Linked DNA regions of Homo sapiens. The protein of the gene in region 1 purifies or fractionates together with the protein of each later gene. This does not show direct contact. Each region holds a gene or a part of one and is shown in the gene's direction. Other genes may lie near its edges.

Evidence for each region.
Region 2: the proteins of PPIE (region 1) and SNW1 purify together in Homo sapiens (affinity purification with mass spectrometry; 4 studies listed by BioGRID and IntAct, with this or other methods). This does not show direct contact.
Region 3: the proteins of PPIE (region 1) and DHX8 purify together in Homo sapiens (affinity purification with mass spectrometry; 4 studies listed by BioGRID and IntAct, with this or other methods). This does not show direct contact.
Region 4: the proteins of PPIE (region 1) and EFTUD2 purify together in Homo sapiens (affinity purification with mass spectrometry; 3 studies listed by BioGRID and IntAct, with this or other methods). This does not show direct contact.
Region 5: the proteins of PPIE (region 1) and RBM22 purify together in Homo sapiens (affinity purification with mass spectrometry; 4 studies listed by BioGRID and IntAct, with this or other methods). This does not show direct contact.
Region 6: the proteins of PPIE (region 1) and CCDC12 purify together in Homo sapiens (affinity purification with mass spectrometry; 3 studies listed by BioGRID and IntAct, with this or other methods). This does not show direct contact.
Region 7: the proteins of PPIE (region 1) and GPATCH1 purify together in Homo sapiens (affinity purification with mass spectrometry; 3 studies listed by BioGRID and IntAct, with this or other methods). This does not show direct contact.

The regions. Positions count from the first base shown.
Region 1 is NC_000001.11:39,744,833-39,749,007, forward strand, and holds part of PPIE (peptidyl-prolyl cis-trans isomerase E), read left to right. Parts: intron 1-542; coding exon 543-666; intron 667-4,070; coding exon 4,071-4,175. UniProt on the Homo sapiens protein: Involved in pre-mRNA splicing as component of the spliceosome. Combines RNA-binding and PPIase activities.
Region 2 is NC_000014.9:77,740,301-77,744,475, reverse strand, and holds part of SNW1 (SNW domain-containing protein 1), read left to right. Parts: intron 1-4,175. UniProt on the Homo sapiens protein: Involved in pre-mRNA splicing as component of the spliceosome. As a component of the minor spliceosome, involved in the splicing of U12-type introns in pre-mRNAs.
Region 3 is NC_000017.11:43,504,346-43,508,520, forward strand, and holds part of DHX8 (ATP-dependent RNA helicase DHX8), read left to right. Parts: intron 1-298; coding exon 299-480; intron 481-2,657; coding exon 2,658-2,852; intron 2,853-3,157; coding exon 3,158-3,343; intron 3,344-3,463; coding exon 3,464-3,674; intron 3,675-3,993; coding exon 3,994-4,175.
Region 4 is NC_000017.11:44,860,814-44,864,945, reverse strand, and holds part of EFTUD2 (116 kDa U5 small nuclear ribonucleoprotein component), read left to right. Parts: coding exon 1-16; intron 17-1,163; coding exon 1,164-1,291; intron 1,292-2,039; coding exon 2,040-2,233; intron 2,234-4,132. UniProt on the Homo sapiens protein: Required for pre-mRNA splicing as component of the spliceosome, including pre-catalytic, catalytic and post-catalytic spliceosomal complexes. Component of the U5 snRNP and the U4/U6-U5 tri-snRNP complex, a building block of the spliceosome.
Region 5 is NC_000005.10:150,690,542-150,694,716, reverse strand, and holds the end of RBM22 (pre-mRNA-splicing factor RBM22), read left to right. Parts: intron 1-476; coding exon 477-641; intron 642-1,409; coding exon 1,410-1,498; intron 1,499-1,690; coding exon 1,691-1,822; intron 1,823-2,835; coding exon 2,836-2,966; 3' UTR 2,967-3,925; downstream 3,926-4,175. UniProt on the Homo sapiens protein: Required for pre-mRNA splicing as component of the activated spliceosome. Involved in the first step of pre-mRNA splicing.
Region 6 is NC_000003.12:46,969,981-46,974,155, reverse strand, and holds part of CCDC12 (coiled-coil domain-containing protein 12), read left to right. Parts: intron 1-4,175.
Region 7 is NC_000019.10:33,087,143-33,091,317, forward strand, and holds part of GPATCH1 (G patch domain-containing protein 1), read left to right. Parts: intron 1-991; coding exon 992-1,126; intron 1,127-3,637; coding exon 3,638-3,723; intron 3,724-4,175.

The DNA.
Region 1 (4,175 bases):
CTTACCTACTTGGAGCACAATGCAAGGCCCAACATCTTCCACTGTCTTCTGAGCACTTAGGCCTGAGCAAGAGGGCTGCCCCCTTGCTTCCATGTAGTTAGCCAGTGTATATGCAGGGCCAGGCACAGAGGGACGAGGTGGTACATGGATGGGTCTGCCTAACTAGAGGACAGTGGGTGGGCTGGAACTGGCATTTGAAGATACTGAGAGTTGTGGATCATGGACCAGAAAAGTGCTGTTCTGTGACTGTGAAGCAAGAGGAGGAAGCAGATGCATCTGAGGGCAAGCATGATGAGATAACACCCCCGTGTGTGAGGCTCAGGTTAGCCAGTGCTGAGACCTCCTGTCGCTGGGCATCCAGCTGGGTGCTACGGCCATGGCTCCTGCCTCCTGCAGCCCTATCAGGGCCCAAGGCCTTCCCCGTCAGCACTTGCTCCAGCCTACGCACTGGAGTTGTGTTCTGGGTGGGTGTGTAGAATACTCGCACTCCTACTTAGGGCGTCAGGGAGCTCTCTCTAACTAGCAATTTCTTCTGCACCTAGGGAGAGCCCATTGCTAAAAAGGCCCGCTCAAATCCTCAGGTGTACATGGACATCAAGATTGGGAACAAGCCGGCTGGCCGCATCCAGATGCTCCTGCGTTCTGATGTCGTGCCCATGACAGCAGGTGAGCAGGACGCTGTGGTCAGAACGGCGGGACGCTGGTGGCTGAGCAGTGAGCCTTTCCCAGGTTCTTACTGCTTCACTTCTTGTGTCCTTGATATTGCTTCTGACCTAAGTTGATTTGAGGCATCTCAGATCCTGGGATCTAGTAACAGATAAGTCAGAGCAGGTGTTTTTGAAGCTTTATAAGTGCTGGCTTACTGTTTTTTAATCGTTTTTTAAAAATACAAGTAAATAATGTATTCTTTTTTTTAAAGAATAGCATATACATATATTCCAATAATATTTAAGACAATAAATTGAAAATTCATTTTCCCCTCTCTACATCCAGTCCTCAATTCTAGAAGTAACTAGTGCTTTTATTGAGTATTCTTTGTAATTTATTAAATATTGACTTCTATTCTCTTTTTAATCTAAATTTTATTATCTAGACATATAAAGAGTCAATTCAGTTTCACAAAGCTTGTTTTGAAAAAACAGTCGTCCCCTGGTGCTGTCCCTGTGCCCTGCTGCCAACACCATTTGCTGCTCCTCAGAGGAGCGGATTTCAACTCTTAGGTGTTTTGGTTTTTATTTCCATGTTGATAACAGTTTTATATTTCTACTTCCTGTTTTCCATTTTAAACATTATCTTCTGATTTTCTACTTCAGAGAACAAAGAATTAGTTTTTTAAAATCCCCTTCCCTGCCCCCTCATCTTCCCTGTATAGGTACCATAATTTTGGTTAGGTCCTAAGTTATTTTAACAATGTAAGCATCATGTGATAACCTCCTTTCATGCACAGCATTTTGTTTTGCCTGGAATTGATAATTGCCTTGTTTTTGCATAGTTTTCTGTGTAATCATTCCTGATTTTCTCCCAGACCATCCTGCTGGGGGTTTTGCATCCAGGTGTCTGCATCTTGTTAAGGGGAGATGAGGGCAAGGCTGAATTCCTCAACATTCAGTATATAAACTTTCACATAATCTCCATTTGTCATTATGGTACCTCAGCCCTCACTATGCGTAGGATGTCCTAGTCCAGAGACCCTCTGCTTTAACCTACCAAAGACTAGACCCCCAGCTGGCTACCAGGTTGGGGAGGGGTGGCCCCCAGCTGCAGAGTCAGGGAAAGGATCCCAAAGATTAACCACTTTCTTAAATGGGCTTTCAGCCAAACTTACTGTCTCCAGGATTACCTGCACCCTTTCCTCTGAGCTTTTGGAGTGCAAATTGAGTTGCTTCTTGGCTTTTACCAGCTTAAGATTCAGCTTTCTCGGGTCTGCTATATCATTTAGGACTCATCTATTTTGTTTTCTAACTTCAGAAATTTTGTTGCTGTTGTCTCTTCCTCCCTGCTTTTTAAGTTTATTTTTTGGCTATTTTAGCCACTTTAAAGTGTTTGTTAGCAGTAATTACTCTGTTCGAAATTTTTGAATCATCCTAAACAAAACCACTTATTAAAGGTACCTATTAAATAATAACTCCCCATTTTCTCCTCCCCTTAGCTTCTGATAACCTCTAATCTTTGTGTCTATGAATTGGCCTATCCTAGATTTTTCATGTAAGTGGAATCATACAATAGCTGTCCTTTTCCACGCCTTGTTGATTTTGCATAGCATAATGCTTTCAAGGTTCATCCTTGTACCATGTATCAGTGCCTCATTCCTTTTTGTGGCTGAATAATATTCCGTTGTATTTGGATAAATATCTTGTTCATTCATTTGTTGATGGGCACTTGCACATTGTTTTCACCTTTTGACTATTGTAAATGCCTGTGTGAATATCCACATGTAAGTATATGTTTAAATTCCTGTTTTCAATTCTTTTGGATATATATGCCTAGGAATGGAAATGCTTAGTCATATGGTAACTCTGTATTTAACTTTTTGAGGAAATGCCAAACTATTTTCCACAGTGGCTGGACCATTTTACATTTCTACCAGCAATGTATGAGTGTTTCAGTTTTTCCACATCTTCTCTTTTTTTTTTTTTTTTTTTTTTTTTGAGACAGAGTCTCGCACTGTTGCCCGGGCTGGAGTACAGTGGCGTGATATTGGCTCACTGCAACCTCCGCCTCCCAGGTTCAAGTGATTCTTGTGCCTCAGCCTCCCGAGTAGCTGGGATTACAGGCGTCTGCCACCATGCCCAGCCAATTTTTTGTATTTTTAGTAGAGACGAGGTTTCACCATGTTGGTTGGCCAGGCTGGTCTCAAACTCCTGACCTCATGATTCGCCTGCCTCGGCCTCCCATAGTGCTGGGATTACAGGCGTGAGCCACCATGCCTGGCCCACATCTTCTCTTAACAGGTGTGACATGGCATCTCATTGTGGTTTTTATTTTTATTCCCTACTGACTAATGATGTTGAACATCTTTTCATGTGCTTGTTGACCATTTGTATATCTTCTTTGGAGAAACATCTTTTCAAATCTTTGGCTTATTTATTAACTGGATTGTTTGTTTTGTTTTTTTTAAGAGACAGGGTCTTGCTCTGACTCCCAGGCTGGAGTGCAGTGGTGAGAACATGGCTTACTGTAGCTTTGAACCCTTGACCTCCAGTGATCCTCCTGCCTTGACCTCCCAAAGCACTGGGATTACACCGTGCCTGGCCATTTTGTTGTTGAATTATAGGAGTTCATTATATATTCTGGATATTAAACCCATGTTAAATATGATTTGCAAATAAGCATTCTCCTGTTCTGTGGGTTGCTTTGCCCTCTATTGGTACGGTTCTTTGATGCACGTCTTAAATTTTGATAAAATCTAATTATTTTTTTCTTTCACCTCTGCTTTTGGTGTGACATTTAAGAAACCATCACCAAATCCAGAGTCATGAAGATTTGCCCCTATGTTTTCTTCTAAGATCCTTTGGTTTTTCTTTTAAAAAATCAGTTTCCTACCAATTTAGTGTGGTTTTAAAAGGGAACAGAGCTCGAACATGTATATTCAATCCCCCTTCAACAGAATCTCCTATAGTCCTGGCCAGGTGTGGTGGTTTACACCTGTAATCCCAGCACTTTGGGAGGCCAAGGTGGGCGGATCATCTGAGGTAGGAGTTCTAGACCAGCTTGGCCAACATAGTGAAACCCCATCTCTACTAAAAATACAAAATTAGCCAGGTGTATGGTACATGCCTGTAGTCCCAGCTACTCAAGAGGCTGAGGCAGGGGAATGACTTGAACCCAAGAGGTGGAAGTTGCAGTGAACTGAGATTGTGCCATTGCACTGCAGCATGGGCAACAAGAGTGAAACTCCGTCTCAAGGAAAAAGAATCCCTTATAGTCCTTACAAGGTTAGTATCACAAAGGTTTATAATGAGTATCTCTTATTTTAAAACAAAAATATGAACACTAAACCAAAGTTTTTTCGAGGTTTTTTATTTTGTCCTATTTTTTAACCCCAGCGCTTTTTCCTTTCTCAATTCCAGAGAATTTCCGCTGCCTGTGCACTCATGAAAAGGGCTTTGGCTTTAAGGGAAGCAGCTTCCACCGCATCATCCCCCAGTTCATGTGCCAGGGCGGTGATTTCACAA
Region 2 (4,175 bases), on another chromosome or scaffold:
TTACTTTTCTTTTTTTTTTTTTTTTTTTTGAGATGGAGACTTGCTCTGTTGCCCAGGCTGGAGTGCAATCTTGGCTCACTGCAACCTCTGCCTCCCAGGTTTAAGTGATTCTTCTGCCTCACCATCCCACGTAGCTGGGATTACAGGCGCACACCACCATGCCCAGCTAATTTTTTTGTATTTTTAGTAGAAACAGGGTTTCACCATGTTGGCCAGGCTGGTCTTAAACTCCTGACCTCAAATGATCCATCCTCCTCAGCTTCCCAAAGTGCTGGGATTATAGGCGTGAGTCGCTGTGCCCAGCCTATGCTATTTTCTTTTTTTCTTTTTTTTTTTTTTTGAGATGGAGTCTCACTCTGTCACCCAGGCTGAAATGCAGTGGCACGATCTTGGCTCACTGCAACCTCCCAAAGTGATGGGATTACAGGCATGAGCGACTACACCCGGCCAGATCGTTGCTTTTGTCTGTAATGCAGCCACTAGAAACAAACCCCAAACTGGGACCACTCTCAGGTTTATATCTTTTTGTTTGTTTGTTTTCTAGAAGTGGATAGATTCATGCATGAAGTTTGGAATGCATTGAGTAATTCAACATTAATCAAGTAACTATTATGTGCCATTGGCACTGGGGGAGCACTTTGATTGTTTAGGACCATCTTCAGCATTGTACAATGTTTAGCATAAGTGGCACTACCTATAAATCCCAGTAGCGTCCCCATCCTACCCCCATTGTCTTAACTAGAAACACCTCACACATTTACAAAGGCACTGGGAGAGAGGAGTTAGAGGTGGCAGTGATGCCCTGTTTGACAATCACTGATTTTCCTGTTTTAGAAGAAATAGAAATGGACTGCATAATATATAAAATAGGATTTAAAAAATTTGTTATTCCAGAGACTGAACAGGTTATTGGATTTATGAATTTGGACTAAGATTTCTGATTTGCTTCCGAGAGGTCTGGTATTCTTCAGAAACGAGGGAGTTCTCACTGAAATATTAATAGTGAATGAGTAAGAATGGAAAATACTAGGTGTTAGGTATAAGAGGTGAGAAGAATCAGTGAGGATTCTAAGACGTAATATTCTAGGACAAGTCTAAGGCAATTCTCTACATGTGAAGTAAGTACTGTGTATACGACTTATTAGTCATACAAAATTGGGGATGAAAAAGTTTTTTTTAGTGTAAATCTTGATACAACCAAATGCTTTTTTTTTCCTAATTATGAAAGTGATAAATCTTTTTTTTTTTTTGAAACGGAGTTTTGCTCTTGTTGCCCAGGCTGGGGTGCAATGGCACGATCTCAGCTCACCGCAACCTCTGCCTCCCGGGTTCAAGTGATTCTCCTGCCTCAGCCTCCTGAGTAGCTGGGATTACAGGCATGTGCCACCACGCCTGACTAATTTTGTATTTTTGGTAGAGACAGTGTTTCTCCGTGTTGGTCAGGCTAGTCTCCAACTCCCAACCTCAGGTGATCCACCCACCTCGGCCTCCTAAAGTGCTGGGATTACAGGCATGAGCCACCACACCCAGCCAAGTGATAAATCTTGAAATAAAGGGCTTGGTGTATGTATTTTTCCCTCTGAAATAGTTATGTAAGAAATACTACATACAGGCCAAGTGCATTGGCTCATGCCTGTAATCCCAGCACTTTGGGAAGGTTGAGGTGGGAGGATCATTTGAGGCCAGGAGTTTGAGACTAGCCTGGGCAATATAATGAAACCCTATCTCTTAAAGAAACGAAATGTTACACACGTACTATACCCAAAAGAATGCCTTCAACGTATTACCCCTAAAAAACCGTAACAACTTTAAACTGACCCCATGATAAATTATATGTTATCTTGTTTGTATGATTTCACACACTAGCTAAGCTAGATTAGCGTTTTCTTTCTACCTCACATAGTGAATGTTTTGACAGGCTTATCCTTTTAGTCAGTCTAGTTCTTTGCCAGTTTTCTGTAATAAAATATCTGTTTCACAGATGAGTTACTACTTTATCTTGTTGACAAAGCTTATTTGTGCTTCTGATACTTTCAAGAGTATATTGTATTTTTCAGAAAACGCTCCCCAGCCCATTTGCCTCCTGGTACTCAGTTTCCTCAGCACATTTAATTCTCAGACTATAAAAATTTGGGGTTTTGGCCAGGTGCTGTGGCTCACGCCTGTAATCCCAGCACTTTGGGAGGCCGAGGCGGGTGGATCGCCTGAGGTCAGGAGATCGAGACCAGCCTGGCCAACATGGTGAAACCCCATCTCTAATAAAAATACAAAAATTAGCTGGACGTGGTGTCATGCGCCTGTAATCCCAGCAACTTGGGAGGGAGGCTGAGGCAGGAGAATGGTTTTAACCCGGGAGGCGGAGGTTGCTATGAGCTGAGATCACGCCATTGCACTCCAGCTTGGGCAACAAGAGCAAGACTTCGTCTCAAAAAAAAAAAAATGGGGGGTTTTATAATTAATTACTATGGAGGAATCTTGCTCTTCAGATGTCCTTCACTCAGCCTTGTGAGATACTAGAATCTTATTGATGCTCATTTGAAGGGTTATTAACTTTGGAATGCCCAAATAAGGAGCAGCAAATGACTCTTGTATGCTAAATTAGTATTGACACTTTATGTTGAACATACATGACTACCAGGGAGCCATTTACTTAGAATCCTTTCCTTATAACCGTTGCTATGGAGAAGTGATAAACTCCTCATGATTAACTCTTCATAGAATTGGTATTTTTTTCTTGTGTTGTTATATAATTTTCAGCTTAGGGTTGTATAGGTTTTTCCATGCTGAGAGGAAATAAGACTTTTGAGGTCAGATAGTAGCTGTATGATCTTAATGTACTGAACCTCACTCTTTTCAGTAGAGTGAGCTTTATGGTCCCTTCCAAAATCAACACTCTTAGAGTATGGTGACACTAATAACTCACATATCAGTAGTACGTGTTTTGTGCTAAATCATCTTAGGCTTTCTTACCTGATCCCTCTTCTCACTCCTGAGAAAAACAAGCTGGAGATTTTAGTGTATAGCCATGAGATAGTTTTTTCTGGGAAATCAGTAGCTTATAGAAAGTTCTGTACGGCCTAAAATATAAACTTATTTATTTATTCATTCATCCATCCATTCTTTAAAATAGAGATAGGTCTTGCCATGTTGCCCTGGCTGGTCTCGAATTCCTGGGCTCAAGCTATCCTCCAACCTTGGCCTTCCAAAATGCTGTGATTACAGGCGTGAGTCACTGTTCATGGCCTATAAACACCTTTAGCATGTAACAGAATATCTCTAAAATTCATTTATTTATTCATTTGTACAAAAAATATTGATCAAATATCTCCAGTCATTATTATAAAGCACAGGAGACACTTTTTTTTTTTTTTTTTTTTTTGGAGACAGTTTCACTCTTGTTGCTCAGGCTGGAGTGCAATGGCATGATCTCGGCTCACTGTCACCTCCGTCTCCTGGGTTCAAGCGATTCTCCTGCCTCAGCGTCTCATGTAGCTGAGATTACAGGCACCCACCACCATGCCTGGTTAATTTTTCTGTTTTTGGGAGAGACGGGGTTTCACCATGTTGGTCAGGCTGGTCTTGAAATCCTGACCTCAGGTGATCCACCCACCTCGGCCTCCCAAAGTGCTGGGATTACAGGCGTGAGCCACCGTGCCCTCCCCGTTTTTATTGTTTTAATACGGGAGACAGATAATAACCATGTAAAGTAGATAATTTCATGCTGTGAACAGTCTTGATCACAGTAAACAGTGCTATGGAGCAAATGATTGGGTGGGGAGGGGTTACTACTAAGGCAATCAGAAGAAGCCTCGATAATGGAGGACCTTTGATCTGAGACACACAGATTGAGAGCTTACTTGAAGAATGATAAACAGAACTCTGTAAAGGCCTAGAATTGGGGAAAAGTATGTTATGTTCAAGAAACAGAAGATGAGCTAGTGTGACTGAAGCATAATGAGTGAGAGAGTGAGAGTTGTAAGGGGAGATTGAAGGCATAGGCAAAGTCAGGTCAAGTTGCATAAGCCATAAAGTGGCTCACACTTTTTTGCTCTGTTTGGAGTAGAAAATTAGAAATAGCATGCATTTCCTTTAAACTTTTTTAATGAATGATGTATGATAGACTTATTAATATAAGACTTTGGCTTGTAGTGGTAAACAGTTCTACAAAAAAAAAT
Region 3 (4,175 bases), on another chromosome or scaffold:
AGACCCTACCTAAAAAAAAATAATTCCAGTGTCAAGCAGTCAGGTCTTCACTTCTCTCAACTAACCTTTTTTCTGACATCACAGGTGTGTAGCACCACTTGTTACAGTCTCTTTCCCATTCCCTGCTGCCCCTTCTATATTCTTTTCTTCACATTAATTTGTTTCTTTGAGTACTTTTGATCACGGGTCGCTGAATTGAGATGCTGCATGTGCAGTGCCCGCATGCCATTTTATTTTTTTCCTGGTACATCTTGAGGTAGCTTGAGGACAATACTAAGTTGCCTGTTTTCCTTTCCAGCGGAAGGCAGACAGATTGCTGCCAACATGAGGGGTATTGGGATGATGCCCAATGATATTCCTGAGTGGAAGAAGCATGCCTTTGGGGGCAACAAAGCCTCTTACGGAAAAAAGACCCAGATGTCAATCCTTGAGCAGAGGGAGAGCCTGCCCATCTACAAACTGAAGGAGCAATTGGTCCAGGTGAGAAGACTTTTATGATGTATTGGTGGGGAGTAGGGTTATTGTCTAAAAGAGGGGTGATATTTTTAAACTGAAACTAACGGGACAAGTATGTGCCTACTTGAAGTGGCTCATCCAAAAGAGTTAAGAAAGAAGGATAAAACTTTCTAAATACTTTTTTTTTAAATGGGGCTGGGCGCGGTAGTGGATGCCTATAATCCCAGCACATCAGAGGCCAAGGCAGGAGGATCACTTGAGCCTAGGAGTTTGAAACCAGCCTGAGGCAACATAGGGAATCTTGTCTCTACAAAAAATAAAAAATTTGGTGGGGCGTGGTGGCCCACACCTGTAATCCGGCACTTTGGGAGGCAAAGGTGGGCGGATCACAAGTTCAGGAGTTCGAGACCATCCTGGCCAACACGGTGAAACCTTGTCTCTACTAAAAATACAAAAAATTAGCTGGGCGTGGTGGCGCATGCCTATAATCCCAGCTACTCTGGAGTCTGAGGCAGGAGAATCGCTTGAATCAGGGAGTCGGAGGTTGCAGTGAGTCAAGATCACGCCGCTGCACTCCAGCCTGGCTACAGAGAGAGACTCTGTCTAAAAAAAAAAAAATTACCTGGGTGTGGTGGTCCATGCCTGTAATCCCAGCTACTCGGGAGGCTGAGATAAGAGGATTGCTTGAGCCTGAGAGGTCGCGGCTACAGTGAACTGCAATCACACCACTGCACTCCAGCCTGGGCGACCAAGTGAGACCCCATATCACAAATGTTTGTGTGTGCGTGTACAGACACACATACTTATGTATGTGTCTGTATATCTTCTTTTTCCTGGGGCCCCTAGAACAGTTTCCAAGTGGGCAGAGTATTGTGTTGCATGGACCAACAGCTCTGTTCAGTAATTAAAAATGAGGATACTCAGTCAATAAACTCATATGGGCAACTCATAGAGTGCTTCGGTACTCTATATTCTGGAGTTCTGATTTTAAGACCACCGAGTCTTCCTTGAGGTAATCAGGTTTACTAGTTTCTAGTGAATCCTTTCAACAATATCTTATATGTATACAAGCAAGTACAAATATATGCACACACACGCACACACATTTTATATGAGTACTGTGTGTGTTTACAGGTGGCAGTGATATTATATACACTGTTCTACATCTTTTTCCACTTAATGATATATCTCAGAGATTTGTGTGTGTGTGTGTGTATGTGTGTGTGACAGAGTCTCGCTTTGTGCAGGCTGGAGTACAGTGGCTTGATCTCAGCTCACTGCAACCTCTACCTCCTGGGCTCAAGTGATCTTCCCACCTCAGACTCCCAAGTAGATGGGACTACAAGGCATACACCATCATGCTCAGCTAGTTTTTTGTATTTTTTGTAGAGATGCGGTCTCACTATATTGTCCAGGCTGGTCTTGAACTCCTGGACTCAAGCAATCCTCCCTCCTTGGCCTCCCAAAGTGCTAGGATTACAGGCATGAGCCACTGTGCCTGGCCTTCTTAAACAAACAAACAAAAAAAATTGCCAGGCCAGGCACAGTGGCTCACACCTGTAATCCCAATACTTTGGGAGGCCAAGGCGGGCGGATCACCTGAGGTCAGGAGTTCGAGACCAGCCTGGCCAACATGGTGAAACCCTGTCTCTACTAAAAGTACAAAAATTAGCCGGGCGTGCTGGCGGGCACTTGCAGTCCCAGCTACTTGGGAGGCTGAGGCAGGAGAATCACTTGAATCCGGAAGGTGGAGGTTGCAATGAGCTGAGATCATGCCACTGCACTCCAGCATGGGCGACAGAGTGAGACTTCATCTCAAAAAAAAAAAAAAAGCCTTTTTTTATGGGCTGTATTATTTGGATAGGCTCTGGTTTATTTAACTAGTCCTATATCCATAGAAACATCGTTGATTGTAATCCTTGGCTGTTACAAACAACGTAGAAATAAGAAATAACTTTTGGGGAAAGATATAGAAATTTGGGAGTTACAGTGGGAAGGAACATTTTTTATGTATCTTTTAAATTCATTGTTGACTTCTTTAACTATATGTGTATATTCCTCTTTTCTTTGGTGTTAGAATATAGTAATTATTTTATTCCAGAGTAATGTAGATTTTAATGACCATATTTATATTCTGTTTAATGACCATATTTATATTCTGGCAGATTTTAATGACCATATTTATATTCTGTTGCTTTCAGGCCGTCCATGACAATCAGATCCTGATTGTCATTGGTGAGACAGGATCTGGAAAGACAACACAGATCACCCAGTACCTGGCGGAGGCAGGCTACACTTCCAGGGGCAAGATTGGGTGTACCCAGCCCAGAAGAGTGGCAGCTATGTCGGTGGCCAAAAGAGTGTCAGAGGAGTTTGGTTGTTGCTTAGGCCAAGAGGTAAGTAGATAGTGGAGTCGCTCGAAAAATACCAGAAGCAAAGGCCCAGGTCTCTTAATCTATCAAATGGAAATATTAATAATACTGCCTTTTTTCAGGTTTCTCCTGAGGGAGAGAGGGTTCCCATTGTCATAATCAGTCTGTTCAGAGTATAGTCTAAGACATACCTTACTATGAGGAAATTACTGTACATCTTGATCAGATTCTTAAGATTATGAGTGAGAGTGACTGGGCTGAAATCTTGCCTGGTGATTGGGAAAAGGAGACATTTGTATCCTAGGTTTTCCCCTTCTCTTCTGCTTTAGGTGGGCTACACCATTCGATTTGAGGACTGCACTAGCCCTGAAACAGTCATCAAGTACATGACAGATGGGATGTTGCTTAGAGAGTGCTTGATTGACCCTGACCTCACTCAGTACGCGATCATCATGTTGGACGAGGCACATGAGAGGACAATTCACACTGATGTGCTCTTTGGATTGTTGAAAAAGGTAACTAGATGCTCTTTAATGACCCCTCTACCTGTTGGAAGCTGAATTCTGGCAGTTGGATTTGAGTACCTGTGTCTTTGGGTAGTCCTTTTCAGTAAGCCACATAATATTTCTCTTCAGACAGTTCAGAAACGGCAGGACATGAAGCTGATTGTCACCTCAGCCACCTTGGATGCAGTGAAGTTTTCTCAATACTTCTATGAAGCTCCCATTTTCACCATCCCAGGTCGAACATATCCAGTGGAAATACTGTACACAAAGGAACCTGAGACAGATTATCTGGATGCCAGCCTGATTACTGTTATGCAGATTCATTTAACAGAACCACCAGGTAAGGGGAAAAAGCAATTTTCCTTTTTGGGAGGCCTAATTTTCCCTCTTAGGCCAAAAGTCCTCATATGGGTATCTTTTTTGCTAATCTTTTTAAAAACAACTTCTAAATATTCATCTCTCTGCAAGCCTCAGGCTTGTATGTTTGAAATGATGGTGGTTATAATGTCATATATAAACAAACTTGTATTGTTTACTTACTGGTCAGAATATGAATGCATATGTTCTGTTATTTGAAGTTTTATTAATATCACCATAGCCCTTGTATAGGACACACATACACACACAGAAAGTAGATGAATGTTCTATTCTGCTCGTAGGTGATATCCTGGTCTTCCTGACTGGTCAGGAAGAAATTGATACTGCTTGTGAGATCCTGTATGAAAGAATGAAATCCCTGGGACCTGATGTTCCAGAGTTAATTATCCTCCCAGTGTACTCTGCTCTTCCCAGTGAGATGCAGACCCGAATCTTTGACCCAGCTCCACCAGGCAGCAGAAAG
Region 4 (4,132 bases), on another chromosome or scaffold:
TTTGGCGAGTTCACAGGTAATAATGTGCTCGTGGCCCCTTAACTCTGTCATCCTCGTGCCCTGCCACAGGTATCACAGCAATTTTTTCTCACCCAGCGATGGAGGTCAGAAATCTGAGGATCTTTTCAACAAACCACAGATTCAGATGCAGAACACTGGTGTTTTTCCTAGCTGCTTTCCTTAGTGGATGATGGCACACATTCTATCTTGGGAACCAAAAGGAATTACATTTTCCTGCCAGGAGGAGTGTTCAAGTAAATGAGATGGGGAGGCAGGCTCTGTGGTTCTGGTATATTTTCCAGGGGGCAGCCGGGAAGGTGGATGCTTGGGTAGTGTGAAATAGTGCAAAAAGCACTAGGCTAGGACTTGGGAGACTTGGTTAGTTACACAGAAGGCACGTGATACAGCAGAAAGACACTGGACTGGTTGAAAAAACCACCTGAGTCTGTCTCGATCCTGCCCTGGCCATTCCATGAGATGACCCTGGGCCAGCCACCTAATTCTTCATGACTCTGATTTGTTATCTGTAAAATCAGGGAAGTGGAAAGGGTGATGGCTGAGGGTCTTCTCAGCAGTCTCTGATTCTAAGTCCGGTGGGAATTAGGTGTCTGGGCCCCCAAGGTGCGTAGTTTTAATAGCTTATTTTGGTCTGCCCATCAATCTGACACACCAGATACCATTGAAGGCACACAGGCCTATCCCAGTGTGCTCATGGGGGTTCCCTCTTATGTGGTTTATTAATGTGTTCAGAAAACGGGGTAACTTATTGAATAGAGATGCATGCAGTGTTTCTCAAGGGGAGTCAGGTTGGGAATTGTTTTAAGTAGATGTTAGATGGGGTGCTTATTTTGTTCCACGTAAATGCGTATAGCCAATAAAAGTTCATAGATCGATGTACTTTAAACTTTTTGTCAGCTGAGTTCCAAGGAACCATGTACCACTGATACCTGCTGCTTGCTCTTTTCTGGCATCAGGGTGACTCCAAATCTTCTAGCAGCACATTCCCAGGAAGCAGGCTATCACTATCTATAGTGCCAGAGCTTTTAGAGCTAACAATCAGTCCCCGCACTTTGAGCTTTTTGACCATTGTGAATGGCTCAGTAACTCCTGCTCGTGCTCCCTGGGAAGGCATGTATTAATGGCTTTCTCTTCTCCATCCACAGGCTTTGTGGACATGTGTGTGCAGCATATCCCTTCTCCAAAGGTGGGCGCCAAGCCCAAGATTGAGCACACCTACACCGGTGGTGTGGACTCCGACCTCGGCGAGGCTATGAGTGACTGTGACCCTGATGTAAGGGCATGTGGCTCCCCGGTTCTCTGGTCTTTTTTTCCCCTTCCTGTGTGGGGATACTGATTTCTGGTCACAGGAGTAATGCCCACTTTCCCACCCTTGCCTCCCCATCCCCATGAGCACAGTCAGGCCTGAATGCAAAGCCTGATGTTGCCACCGCTAGTGCTATGACCTTGGGAACATTACTCACATTTCCTGAGCCTCAAGGCCTTGGTCTATAACACGAGCATAATAAAATGTGAGCGGTTGTTATGAGATTTAAATAAGATTAAGGAAGTGTTACGGTTGTGTTCAGCATGTTGCCTGGCAGATACTAAAGATTCAACAAATGGTAGCTAATCTTGTCAGTCCTGGCTTTTAAAAACATCTTTCCCAGCCATTTCTTAGGCTGTCTAGTTTCTTATCATAAATACACAGCCAGTTGAGAATTGAGTTACATCTTAAGAGGAAATTTGGGACAGTAAGTAATCTTGCCAATAGTGCCTCTCTGCTATCTTAAATCTGTGTCTCTTCCTCAATGCCCTTATCCTCCCAAAAAAAAAAAAAGAGGAGAATATTTTTGCTCTGCCATGTCTCCTATTCATCCTTCTCAGAGGGATGGGGTAGAACATGGTTTGGAGATGAGACTACCTCATCTTTCTCTAGCTCCTCATAGAGCTCATGTCCTTGCTGTCAAGGAAGATGGCGGGGAGTAGTACTTCCCCGGAGCATAGATGTGGTTGAAGCTGCACCCTGTCCCCTCTTCCAGGGCCCCCTGATGTGCCACACTACTAAGATGTACAGCACAGATGATGGAGTCCAGTTTCACGCCTTTGGCCGGGTGCTGAGTGGCACCATTCATGCTGGGCAGCCTGTGAAGGTACTGGGGGAGAACTACACCCTGGAGGATGAGGAAGACTCCCAGATATGCACCGTGGGCCGCCTTTGGATCTCTGTGGCCAGGTACTGCCAACCAGAGCCCCAGGAGTATGCCTTGGTGTCTATCCAGGGGCTGCCCCCAAGGAGCTGGAAGGAGTGATCCTCCTTGGAAGTAGTTGCAAGGCTCTGTGCAAGAGGGGATAAAGTGGCTCTCCCTCCGCAGGGCTATTGACTTCAAGTTCTTCCTGTCCCAGGTTTGCTGGGGCCAAAGGCAGCTACTGTTGGAACAGTGCCAGAAGCTTCGCCTTTGCACTTTGGGTGGCTCGTGTGAACTTTTTTTTTTAGCCCTATTTGTTTGTTTTGAGACAGGGTCTCACTCTGTCTCCTAGGCCAGAGTGCAGTGGCACAATCTCAGCTCACTGCGACCTCCGCCTCCTGGGCTCAAGCAGTCCTTCCACCTCAGCCTCCTGAGTAGCTGGAACTACAAGCACACACCACTATGTCTGGCTAATTTTTAAATTTTTTGTAGAGACAATGTCTCACTATATTGCCCAGGCTGGTCTCCAACTCCTGGGCTCAAGTGATCCTCCCACCTCAGCCTCTCAAAAGTGTTGGATTACAGGTGTGAGCCACCACACACCATCTTAAAGCCCTTTTGAAAGCATGAAGCTTGTATGAACTTTTGTAGGAGGATTTCCATTGTTACTCATCTTAATCCTCTTTTCATTTCCTCTCCTGTGTTCCTTAAGTCATAATCTTTGTGTTTCTTCCCAAAAGAAATTGTTCCCCAACTCCACTGTCTACTCTTTGACCAAGAGAGAAGGCTTCGCTGGATCCCTTGTAGCATCCCAATCTGCAGTCAAACTTAGCTTGGGCCTCTGGGCTACTTGTCAGTTTATGAATTTGGTTTCCCAGTTGACAAGTTAAACCAAAGCATTCGTGTTCCCTAAGGTGGCTACCCTGCCTCAATGGTGGTCCCTTTTGTTAAATCCACCCTAAATGCCAAAAGGTGGAATATTGAAGAGCTGGGAAAGTGGAAGTTTTCTGTGATGCTTTTTTTTTTGAGATGGAGTCTCACTCTGTCGCCCAACCTGGAGTGCAGTGCCTGTGATCTCGGCTTACTGCAAGCTCCACCTCCTGGGTTCATGCCATTCTGCTGCCTCAGCCTCCCAAGTAGCTGGGACTACAGGCGCCCGCCACCATGCCCAGCTAATTTTTTTGTATTTTTAGTAGAGACAGGTTTCACCGTATTAGCCAGAATGGTCTCGATCTCCTGACCTCATGATCCACCTGCCTCAGCCTCCCAAAGTGCTGGGATTATAGGTGTGAGCCACCGCTCCCAGCCTTTTTTTTTTTTTTTTTTTCTCTCTGTCAGCCAGGCTGGAGTGCAATGGCGTGATTGCGGCTCACTGCAACCTCTGCCTCCCGGGTTCAAGCGATTCTCCTGCCTCAGCCTCCCAAGTAGCCAGGGTTATAGGTGTGCACCACCATGTCTGGCTAATTTTTTGTATTTTTAGTAGAGATAGTTTTCACCATGTTGGCCAGGCTGGTCTCAAACTCCTGACCTCAGGTGATCCAGCCACCCACCTCAGCCTCCCAAAGCACTGGGATTATAAGCGTGAGCCGCCACACCCGGCCTTCTTTGATGCTTTTGCTAGCCCCTTACAGTCGACACCTTGGGCAGCTTTTTACCATGAGCCTGCAATTGGAATAAGATTTTCCTCTTATGTCCTCACAGAAATACCTTGTACTTTTCTTTCATAATGCCCATCAGTTTGTAACCACATACATGTGTGGATAATGATTGTTTACTGTATCTCTCCCCTGCTAGAATGTATCTGTTTTGCTCACCCCTGCTCTTGGCACGCAGCAAGTACTCAGTAAATTTTTGTGGAATAGGCTGGATGTGGTGGCTCACACCTGTAATCCTAGCACTTTGGAAGGCTGAGGCAGGAGGATTGCTTGAGCTCAGGAGTTCAAGAC
Region 5 (4,175 bases), on another chromosome or scaffold:
AGCCTGTCTCCATTAAACCCTATCTAAGTGAGCTAGACAACCCCCAGGGGTTGGCAGACTTTCGCTGTAAGAGGCTGGATGGTGAATATTTTAGGCATTGTGGGCCACATGCAGTCTCTGTCACGTATTCTTGTTTTAAACTTTCTTGGCTCATGGGCCTTGAGAGCTATGGTTTGCCAACCTCTTATCTAGGGTTTAGGGTCTTTAAAGAACCTATTAGAACCCCCTTTCCTCCATGGGAAAAAACCCTGAGATGTTTGAGAACCTTTATTTACTCATTATTTTTCTTTCCTTCTCTCAATCAGCAGCACCCACAGTAGGACAAGATATGGGGTGGAGACCTGCGGGTAGTTAGGCAGATAACCTTGGGGCCCACCTGCCTAGTGGTGTGTCAGTGAAAGTTAATCCATTTTCAGTCTCCTGGGTACATCTTTTTTAACTCCCACTTTCATTTTTCTCTGCCTGTTTCCCTTCAGAAATCATTTCTACCAGTTCGGAGAGATCCGGACGATCACTGTTGTGCAGAGACAGCAGTGTGCTTTCATCCAGTTTGCCACACGGCAGGCTGCAGAAGTGGCTGCTGAGAAGTCCTTTAATAAGTTGATTGTAAATGGCCGCAGACTGAATGTGAAATGGGGAAGGTGAGAATTAAACTATTTTTAAGTGACATTTTGCTTAGATTTTTAAGAAACTATTTCATTTTCTGGAGACTAGTAGGCTTTTGGTTAACAGGCTTAAATGAACAGGATCTTTAAAGAGATCTTTCAAAGATCACTCTCTATGTGATACTTGATTCCTGTGGATGTTGGGAGAACCCTGCTTTGGAAATGTATTCAGGGGGTTGGTGTATAATCTACTCCTTTGAAGGTTCATGTTTTTGTGACTAGCTATTATAGGCCAAGTATAATGCCAGGCCATGAAAGGTGAATTTTAGGGTTTATAAATGAATTAGACCTAGATTCTGCCCTTAGAGGCTGATTGTCCAGTGGAGAAGATAAAACAGGGAAGAATCGCTATTTTAAGTTTAAAAGTGATGATTGCATAAGAGAGACACAGGTGAAAGACCCAGTTCAAAGGGGGAACATGTCTCCAACTTGGAACCAGGGAAGTGATGGCTAATAGCAGCATCTGCCTTTGTGGAGCGCTCCCTATGTGGTAAGCACTGTGCTAAACACGTATGTGTTGCCTTTTCTGGTCCTTATGATAGTTCTAGCAGCTTTTGAACCCAGGTCTTTTCTGGTGTCAAAACCTTTGCTCTTGTTCACTGTGCACAGTGGCATTTATGGGAAAAGAGTGTGTGCTGAGGAGGAGGTAGAGCGAAGGAACTCCATTGGACTGGGGAATGTAAGAAGCAGAGGTGTGAGATAAGGTGGGCCAGAGTGCCGACTGTATGCATGTGTGTTTCCCAGATCCCAGGCAGCCAGAGGAAAAGAAAAAGAGAAAGATGGAACTACAGACTCTGGGATCAAACTAGAACCTGTTCCAGGATTGCCAGGAGGTGAGTGCAGACTCCCTGCTGACTTCAGAAGCTCTTTCTGCCCTGATGTTCCTATTTTGGAAGATGGGACCCAGGTCTGGTTCATGTTGCCGCTCTACTCTCCCAGTAGGACCTCTGAGAATGTAAAGGTGGTAGAAACAGCGTTGCACAATTGTTCTCCCCTCTATGTGTTGACTATTTTCTCTCCTCCAGCTCTTCCTCCTCCTCCTGCAGCAGAAGAAGAAGCCTCTGCCAACTACTTCAACTTGCCCCCAAGTGGTCCTCCAGCTGTGGTGAACATTGCTCTGCCACCGCCCCCTGGCATTGCTCCACCCCCACCCCCAGGTAACTTCCATCTTCCTTCTTAGCCCAGAGAAATCCTTGTGAAAGTTCTGTCTCATAAACCTCACCATCATGTTCAACACATCCAAATCCTGTGAGTTTGCTCTGTAGAAGTCTACCAGTAAAGTTGATCTGTTGGGATTTCTGAAATTTTTCTTTCTCCTGCTCTGCCGAGGAGAAGAAAGGGGCCAGTTTTCTAAAGATCCGCGTATATGTGTCAGCAGAGTAAGATTATTAGATTACAAAGATCTATCACCAATTTGTTCCCTTTTCTAAACTAAATGCTAATGGATGCCCTAGAGCACTATTGCCCAGTGTGGGCTGTGAGCGGGTGTCATTTTACAAAGTGTTTATCACCTGTCTGCCACAAGATCAGGAGCTTGTGCCAAAATGTAATCAGTGAACCCCTTCCTTCATTGAGAAAGTCTTGTTACCAAAAAAACTGTCAGATGAACTAAACTGTGCCTGGTCGTATAATTTACATTTTGACTCAAGCTCTTTGTCTTGAGTGGCCAGAAATAGGTGGAGGACTGGCACTTCGTATAGCACTGCTGTAGACAGTGTTAACAGTGGAAGGAAATCACAGGTAGCCAGTTCTCCTGTGGCAGAGAGCCCATACTCTGAAGAGAATCTGGTTTCTGAGCACCCTCCATTCTGGTGTCAAGCATTGAGGTTAATGATGACACAGTCTTTGCCATCAGCCTGATTTCTTTCTTATCTCCCAAATCCTGACTGAATCCTGTCTGGTAGGATTTGGCATGTTGGATACATAGCAGAGACTCAGATGACATACTAGGCGATACCTTGAGTGCTGTGGAGTTTTTTGGACTGTGGGGGAAAGGTTTCTAAAACCAAGGAAATAACAAGTGGAAGTAAGTTTGTGAACTGACATTTGCTTAAGCCCCGTGTCAACCTTGATTTATGTGTAGGTGGTTTTAACCTTAGCAAGATTGAGAGGTTTGAAAGGTTATCAAGGAAACTACCAGCCTAACACATTTGTTCTCTCGTATCTGCAGGTTTTGGGCCACACATGTTCCACCCAATGGGACCACCCCCTCCTTTCATGCGGGCTCCAGGACCAATCCACTATCCTTCTCAGGACCCTCAGAGGATGGGAGCTCATGCTGGAAAACACAGCAGCCCCTAGCACCTTGTCACCACTCTGGGGCTCTGTGGAAGAAAGGGCACTTAAAACTCCCAGTAAATCTTGGAATAAATATATTTTTCCTTCCCTTGTAGTTTCCATGGTAGCTGAATGTGCTCAGATGTGAGCAGTCAGAGACTGACAGCCATGCTTTCCTATACTTGTTCAAAGGATCGATGGACCGTAAATAAGCTGCCATTAACACATCTGGTTACTGCTGTAACATGACTAATAAAACCGAACGCCTGTTCCCCTTACCCGTGTGGGGGACACGCAGATGAGTGAATTGGAATGTCCAGCAGAGTTACCCTCCCAATTATATGTTCATTTTGTATATTTTTTGGTCGGGGGAAAAATTGACCTGCAGTAAAAAAACCTTTGACCATTTTTATGTCCATTGGATACTTTCCTTTTTATCATCTTAAAAAAAGATAACTAGTACTAATCATTGTAGTGGCCTAAGTGTGATTTAACTCTTGAAGTCACACCCTCCGAAAGATGAGTAGAAACCAGCACCAGCACAGCCCAGATCTTCTCTTTCCTCTCCTTTTCCTCATTTATTCCTAAAGGAATCTGACCATTTTACGTCTCTACGGCCCAAAAAAAGACAAAAATAAAAATTCCTTTTTATTCCTGTCAACTGGATGGAAACACAAATTTCATGGAGCTGTGTACCATCGAAGAAACCTGGTGTCTGGCATGAAATTACTGTAAAGAACTTCCTGTAAAACACGTTCTTTAACAAACTGAAATGAAAAGCATTGGAGCGTCTGAATGAAAGACGTGACCTCCTGCTGGGACTCTGATGGTCTTCAGCATTCACCTTCGTGTGTCTTCAGTGTCTCATTGTCATCCCTGCTTCTGTTTGGTCTTAGAGTGTTTGGATATAACTGAATTGTAGATGGTAAAGGAAATTTGATGTGTTTTTTGTTTTTAAATAATTAAAACGGGTCAATTTTTCACATGTTGTCATGGGTTTATTTCTAGATTCCTCTTTATCCTTTGGTAGCTGAACTCGAGGTCAGTGGAAGTTATTTAATAGAAATGAGTTATATATTGTAAATTTTTTAAATGTTGCTTTAGACTTTTGATTATATCCATTCCGTGATGATTTACTTATTTTTTTTTAACCTCAGCCTATTCTTAGGTTGATTCCATGATGATTTAAAAGGCTCAGACCTCTTTAGTATTTATCTCAAAGGGTGATTGTGA
Region 6 (4,175 bases), on another chromosome or scaffold:
GTCTCTGAATTTGACTACTCTAGGTACCTCATGTAATCAAATCATACAGTATTTGTCCTTCTGTGACTGGCTTATTTTACTTAGCATGTCTTCACACTTCATCCATGTTGTAGCATATGTCAGAATCTCAGTCCTTTTTTAAAGGCTGAATAATATTCCGTTGTGTATACCATGTTTTGTTTAGTTGGGTTGCTTCTACGTTTTGCCTGTTGTGAATAACGCTGCTATAAACATGGGAGTACAAGGCCTGGTGCGGTGGCTCACGCCTGTAATCCCAGCACTTTGGGAAGCCGAGGTGGGCAGATCACGAAGTCAGGAGATCGAGACCATTCTGGCTAACACAGTGAAAACCTGTCTCTATTAAAAATACAAAAAATTAGCCGAGCGCGGTGGTGGGCGCCTGTAGTCCCAGCTACTTGGGAGGCTGAGGCAGGAGAATGACGTGAACCTGGGAGGCGGAGCTTGCAGTGAGCTGAGATGCGCCACTGCACTCCAGCCTGGGCGACAGAGTGAGACTCCATCTCAAAAAAAAAAAAAAAAAAGAAAAGAAGAAACATGGGAGTACAGATACCTGTTTGAGTATCTGCTTTAAATTCTTTTGGGTAGATAGCCAGAAGTGGAATTACTGGATCATATGGTAATTCTTGTTTTTTTTTTTTTGAGATGGAGTTTCGCTCTTGTTGCCCAGGCTGGAATGCAATGGTGCAATCTCAGCTCACTGCAGCCTCCGCCTCCTGGGTTCAAGCAATTTTCCTGTCTCAGCCTCTCGAGTAGCTGGGATTAATTTTTTTTTTTTTTTTTTGAGATGGAGCTTCGCTCTTGTTGCCCAGGCTGGAGTGCGATGGCACGATCTCAGCTCACTGCAACTTCCACCTCCTGGGTTCAAGCGATTCTCCTGCCTTAGCCTCCCCAGTAGCTGGGATTACAGGTGTATGCCACCACGCCCAGCTAATTTTTTATTTTAGTAGAGACAGGGTGTCACCATGTTGGTCAGGCTGGTCTCAAACTCCTGACCTCAGGTGATCCACCCACCTCGGCCTCCCAAAGTGCTGGGATTACAGGCGTGAGCCACCACACTGGGCCTTTTTTTTTTTTTTAAATTCGGGTGATGTCAGGTGAGGAGAAGGGAGATCAGTCTCAAATCTGTCTTTTCGACGAACTAAAATCAGGGGTTTATATAGCAGGGAGAGGAATGTAATTATGTGTAGGGAAAACAGCTGGATCATATGATAATTCTGTTTAGCTTTTTGAGGAAACACCATAGTGTTTTCAGTAGTGGCTGCACCATTTACATTCCCAGCAGCAGTGTGCAAGGCTTCCAGTTTCTCCACATCCTCCCCAGCACTTATTATTTTATTTTCTTTCTTTCTTTTTTTTTTTTTAAAGGAGTCAGGAGTCTCACTGTGTTGCCCCAGGCCGGTCTTGAACTCCTGGGTTCAAGTGATCCTCCTGCCTTGGCCTCCAAAAATGCTAGGATTACAAGTGTGAGCCACCAAGCCCAGCCATCTTCTTTTTTCGTTTTTTTAATTATAACCTTCCTAATGGGTGTGAAGTGGTGGTATCCCATTGTGGTTTTGATTTGCATTTCCCCAGTGATGAGTGATGTTGAACATCCTTTCATATGCTTGTTTGCCACTTGTATATATATTTTCTTTGAAGAAGTATCCAGATTCCTTTTGCCCATATTTTTAATTGGGCTCTTTTTCTTGTTATTGAGTTGTCATTGAATTGTTCATATATTCTGGATATTAAATCATTATTAGAGATGAGATTAGTGATATTTTTTCCCATTCTCTGGATTATCTTTTCATTCTCTTAGTAGTGTCATTTTTTTAAAAATTAATTTTTTGTAGAGATGGGGGTCTCACTGTGTTTCCCAAGCTGATCTCAAACACCTGGCCTCAGGCAGTCCTCCTGCTTTGGCCTCCCAAAGTGTTGGGATTACAGGTGTGAACCACCGCACCTGGTGGATAGTCTCATTTGCTGCGCAAAGAGTTTAAAATTTGATGAAGTTCAATTTATCTGTTTTTGATTTTGTTGCATGTATTTTTAGTGTCATATTTAATCCCTATAGTTCTTGAGTGATTTTTTTTATTAAGGTGAATGCCTGGGGACAGGACAGGTAAGGGTCTAACCTTTGAGTTGATTTTCCAGCCTGTGGCCCTTTCTGCTGGACCTTTTAAGTGGGGAGTCTGGTGAGGAAGTATGACTGCCTGCTGTGGCCAGATAAAACCCCTTGAGTCTCCTCCTTCAGAGAGGAAGCGGCTTCACATTTTTAGTTCAGGTTTCTGATGTGACAACAGACACCAGGATTGAGCACCTTCTCTGCCTGCACTTGGAGAGCACCTGTCTGCCCCATGAGGATGGCATCTTGCTGGTTTCCTAGCACTCAGTGGCAGGTCCTTCATTGAGTTCTTACTGTGGGCATGGTTTTGCTGGAGGCCTTAGGAATTTCAGGCATGGAGTTGGTTTTCCTCACAGTTTTATCTTTCTTCCTAACTCTCACCAGACTATAAACTCATAATTTAGTGATATTAAGACAATTCAGGGTCCTGAGGTTGTGGCAGATGGAAAGAGACAAGATTAGGGGTTGCAATGTTTCCGTGTATTATTCTGCGCAAAACTCTCTTGTAGTCATGCAGCTGTAGTTTTACAAAGACGTCCTGGTCAGCCCACCTGATGCCACTTATTAGTGAGAGGAGCAAGGCAAGAGGCTGAGGAGAGCTGGGATGTCCAAGGCTGAGGAGGGGAAGTAATGTCTCCTGGATTCCAGGATTCCAGCCCATGCAAGACCCCCTGGGGGAAGGGGATTCTGTAGAGGACACAGCACTGCCTGAAGCAGCATCTTGTAGGTCAGCCAGTTCCCGTTGACACGCAGAAAGACAGTACTGCTGGGGTTCATTTTCTGGGAAAGCCAGGCAGAGCCTGAGGAAGCTTCATGGGAAGGCAGCATGGAACTTGAGCTGAGCCACGGAGGATGGGGAAGTGGGAGAAGGTCATCGAGGTAGCTGGAAAGGAGAGTGTTCCCAGGGAGCATTTTAGAGGTGGGAACATTCAGGTGCATAGAGGTGAGAGTGGAGATGCTCCAGGGAGTTTGACAGCAAGCACTTGGCAGTGATACAGGGGCAGGGGTACAGTCTGAAAGTGCTGGACTGGGGTACTCTGGTAGCCAAGTTTTGCAAGAGCCAGGGTTTCCAGCAGGGATGGTAGCCAGCCTGGGCACACTTTTCTGTATTGTATTTGAACCTCATTTCCTGATGCTCATCCAGAAGTTCCTGGCTGGGTGAGTAGGTGAACAGTTCAAGGCTGTGTGGATGAAACTCTGGCATCTCTTTACAGTGCTGTCCGGCAGGGCAGTGTGAGGCCACTCTGTCCTCCTTTGACCTCTTTCTTCTTCAGCAGCCAAATGGAGGCTCTCTAAAGGTGATGATTAACTTGGCATAAACATGCCAAGCTTTCCTGAGCGATTGCCCTGAATTGGGCTGTCTCTTGCTGCTCTGAGACAGGGAGACTGGCTGTCTGGCTGACCAGCCCTTGGGGCTGAGGTCTGGCTGTCAAGTTGCAGGTTCCAGGCAACCAGCAATTCCTGGTTGTCACCTGGCTCTAGAGATTAGAGCAGCAGTGTTGCTCACTAGAACTTTGTGCAGTGATAGTGTTCTTTAATCTGCACTGTCTAGTACTGTAGCCATGGGCCACCTGTGACTTTCAAGCCCTTGAAATGTGGCTACCGGCCAGGCACAGTGGCTCATGCCTGTTATCCAGGGGTGTCCAATCTTCTGGCTTCCCTGGGCCACAATGGAAGAAGAATTGTCTTGGGCCACACATAATATGCAGTAACACTAATGATAGCTGATGAGCTTTAAAAAAAAAATCACAAAAAATATCTCATAATGTTTTAGGAAAGTTTACGAATTTGTGTTGGGCTGCATTTGAAGTGGTCCTGGGCCTTGGTCTGCGGGTTGGACAAGCTTGTTATAATCCCAGCATTTTGGGAGGTGGAGGCAGGAAGATCACTTGAGTCCAGGAGTTTGAGACCAGCCTGGGCAATATGACAAATCCCCATCTCCACAAAAAATACAAAAAATTAACCTGGAATGGTGTCGTGCACTTATAGTTCCAGCTACTTGGGAGACTGAGCAGGGAGAATTGCTTCAGCCTGGTAGGGGCAGAGGTTG
Region 7 (4,175 bases), on another chromosome or scaffold:
CTAGTAAAGGGAGTTGGCTTGAAACTCCACTGTGACTCTCACCCTTAACTCATACCCTTAACCACTGTATAACCTACTTCCTCTTGTGAACTTTTGAAAATAACTTGATTTTTTTTATTTTTTAAAAAAATTTAAATAAATTCAGGATTTTGAATTGTAGTTGATAAAACGAGGCAGTAATTTGTGCCATAGTACCTGGGAGTTTAAACCTAAGGAATTGTTAGGCTAGGCCTAAAATGTATTAGATTAAATTCCCTTGCTTGTGTGATGTCTCAACCCAGCCCTTTCAACAAAGTAGGAAAAGGAATAGGTTTAAAGAACACTGTGGAATCAGGAGATTCACAGAAATTAAGGAAACTCTTAGGAGTCGGGGAAAATAGGCAATACCAAAGGAAAAATGCCGGATTCAGGGATGGTGTGACGTTCTAGAAGAGGTATGGAAGTGTATCTCTCCTTGCCAAGTGCCACCCCAGCTTCTGCGCCCTTCATTTGAAGCCAGGAGATTTCAGTTTCATCTGTCGGAACTCTCCTGACATTATAATTTTTTTTTTTTTTTTTGGGGGAGAAGTCTCGCTGTGTCTCCCATGCTGGAGTGCAGTGGTGTGATCTCGGCTCACTGCAACCTCCACCTCTCGGGTTCAAGCGATTCTCCTGCCTCAGCCTCCTAAGTAGCTGGGATTACAGACGTCTGCCACCACGCCCGGTTAATTTTTGTATTTGTTAGTAGAGCCGGGATTTTGCCATGTTGACCAGGTTTTGTAATGGAATTTAGTGGGAAAAGAGGGCAATCATTATTACATAAGCTTATAAAATATATTGTTTTCTAGGCTATATAAAGCAGTAAAGTCTAGGAATAACAATTTAAATGATTATATTTGAATTATAAGAAGTAAACAATTTATGATATTTAAAAAGTGACATTTTCCCTAAATTTGAACCGACCATCTCCTCTCTTTTTCATTTAAAAAACTTTTTTTTTTTTTTTTTTTAGGTGAAAGACCAAAGAAACCAATCCCTCTTCAGGATCAGACTGTCAGAGATGAAAAAGGAAGGTATAAACGATTCCACGGGGCCTTTAGTGGAGGTTTCTCTGCTGGATACTTCAATACTGTTGGCTCAAAAGAAGGTATCATTTTCCTAATTGTAGCTATTATACCATTAAAGCAAATGATCAAAATATTGATTCTCCCTCACCCTTGCTTTTTTTTTTTTTAATTTTGAGACAAGAGTCTCGCTCTGTCGCCCAGGCTGGAGTGCTGTTGTGTGATCTTGGCTTACTGCAACCTCCGCCTCCTGGATTAAGCGATTCTCCTGCCTCAGCCTTCCAATTAGCTGGGATAACAGGCGCATGCCACTATGCCTGGCTAATTTAAAAAAAAATACTTTTAGTAGAGACAGGAGTTTCACCATGTTGGCCAGGCTGGTCTCAAAGTCTTGACCTTGAGTGATCTGCCCACCTTGGCCTCCAAAAGTGCTGGGATTGCAGGTGTGAGCCACTGCACCCGGCCACCTTTGCTTTTTTTTTTTTTTTTGCGATGGAGTCTTGCACTGTTGCCCAGGCTGGAGGGCAGTGGTGTGATCTTGGCTCACTGCAACCTCCGCCTCCCGGGTTCAAGCGATTCTCCTGCCTCAGCCTCCCAAGTAGGTGGAATTACAGGCGCCTGCCACCATGCCCAGCTAATTTTTTTTGTGTTTATAGAGACAGGGTTTCACTATGTTGGCCAGTGTGGTCTCTAACTCCTGGCCTCAAGTGATCCGCCTGTCTTGGCCTCCCAAAGTGCTGGGATTACAGGTGTGAGCCACTGCGCTCAGCTTTCTCTGAACATACACTGTAACCTCTTGTGTTCTTTGGATATTTGGATGTTTCCAGAGTCAACTTGTATCTTGTTCATTGATTGCAACCTTATGGTTAAAGAGTTTTCTTTCACTTTGTAAAAAAATGCATACCTCCTAATCAGATGATTAAATGATAATAATGACTTTGGTTTTTATTGTGTCTTGCCATTCACGAAATACTCTTAAACAGAGTCTTTCAGTTAATCATTGACTGTCTCTCGTGACTGAGTGAGTGAGGAGGGCAGGTGTCACAGGGATCTTGCAGATGATGCCACCAAGGGTCAGAGAGGTTAAGGAGCCAGCATGGCGTTAGTGCTGAGGGAAGAGTCACCAGGTGCCCTCTTCAGACACTGGGGACCACAGCAAGACTGGCTCCTCAGTGCTCTCTACCTGGGGAAAAGTCAGTTAAATCTTTTATGTTATGTACTTTTATAAATGCCAAGTTGTTTAAAGTATTGTATGTTTTAAGATATATTAATCTAGAAGCATTTTTTTGAACTGGAAGAAATGGCTTTCTATATCTCAGTTATGAATGGAAGATGAACTGATTTTATTATATGTGCTGCCATAGTGAGCACGGAAGATGAACTGATTAATTCACATAGCAATTATCAAGAAAAAGATGGGCTAGATCTTTTATAATTTTTTTTTTTTTTTCCTGAGATGTAGTCTCACTCTGTCGCCCAGGCTGGAGTGCAATGGCATGACCTCGGCTCACTTCAACCTCCGCCTCCTGGGTTCAAGCAATTCTCCTGCCTCAGCCTCCCGAGTAGCTAGGACTACAGGTGCCCGCCACCACACCCGGCTGATTTTTGTATTTTAGTAGAGATGGGGTTTCACCATGTTGTTCAGGCTGGTCTCGAACTCCTGACCTCAAGTGTTCCACCCGCCTCAGCTTCCCCAAGTGCTGGGATTACAGGCGTGAGCCACCATGCCCGGCCTTACCATTTTATTTAATTAATTGATTTATTTTTTGAGACAGGGTCTCACTCTGTCGCCCAGGCTTTAGTGCAGTGGTGCACCTACTGAGAGTAGACCTTCCCCAGATGCCTCAGCTCACAGGGCCCTTGGAGAGAATCAGGAAGGAGGTGCAACCCTCTTAGAGAAAACTAAACAACTTTATGTGCAGAGGTTACAGACATATGTGACCTCCAGAGCATTCCCTGTTTGTGGACGTGGCACATGCTCGGTAACCGTGGTCAGGGAACAAGGCCATTGGTTACAGGATTCCAGTGTCTGTTGAAACTGGGGGACTGGCAGAGCCGCTGCCCTTGGACCTGCCAGGTTGAGTCTTTGGTCAGGGTACTGTGAATGTTGCCTGGATTCCTTCTGTTACTCTCTCTTTATCCACTCTGACTGATTAAAACACCTTGACATCATATCTTTACACTTGATCTTAGCCAAAAGGCCTAGAAGCGATGACATCATTTCTTTAGATATGTTAATATGCCAGTGGAGGTTGCTGGTCTCACGTCCTGCATTTTAAGGTGACCTTGCATCTGTCAGCTCAGATCTGCTTGTGTTCATTTCACAGTTTAACTTTCAATGTGTAATTCTATATCTCTTGGTTTCACTTTCTTATGGGGAAACCTTAATGTATCCACTAAGTTTTACATCAGGGGATACAGGGATTAATAAGAAATTTATGTGGAATAATTACGTCTATATAAGCACTGAGATGGGAAGTAGCTAAGAGTTTATAGTTATTGGGAATTTCAAGTCCATACATGTTATTTAATCATTTACTCATAGACCCAAATACTCTCTAGGATTGTAAAGTTCTAAACTCTTTTTTTTTCAGGATGGACACCCTCTACCTTTGTGTCTTCACGACAGAACAGAGCAGACAAATCTGTTCTTGGTCCTGAAGATTTTATGGATGAAGAGGTGCGTGTGCAAAACTTTAATTGCCAATTAGCTGGTGGGACAGGTCTAGTTGGTTGCTGTAACTGCCTTCTCTCTCCCCAGAAGGTCCAATGTACGATTTCCTCTTTGTTTGTAAGGCTTTATCTTTTAGGTATTTGATGTGCAGTGTCCTGTACATCAGTAGAGTCTTGTTCATTGGAGGAGCATTTTATACTGGGGCCAATTTCTAAAATCAAGAGTGTAAGGGGAAAGTCATATACAGGCAATTTACTTGAAAAGCCTCGTGGCTGGGTGCGGTGGCTCACGCCTGTAATCCCAGCACTTTGGGAGGCCGAGACAGGCGGATCACGAGGTCAGGAGATCAAGACCATCCTGGCTAACACGGTGAAACCCCGTCTCTACTAAACAAAATACAAAAAATTAGCCGGGTGTGGTGGCGGGTGCCTGTAGTCCCAGCTACTCGGGAGGCTGAG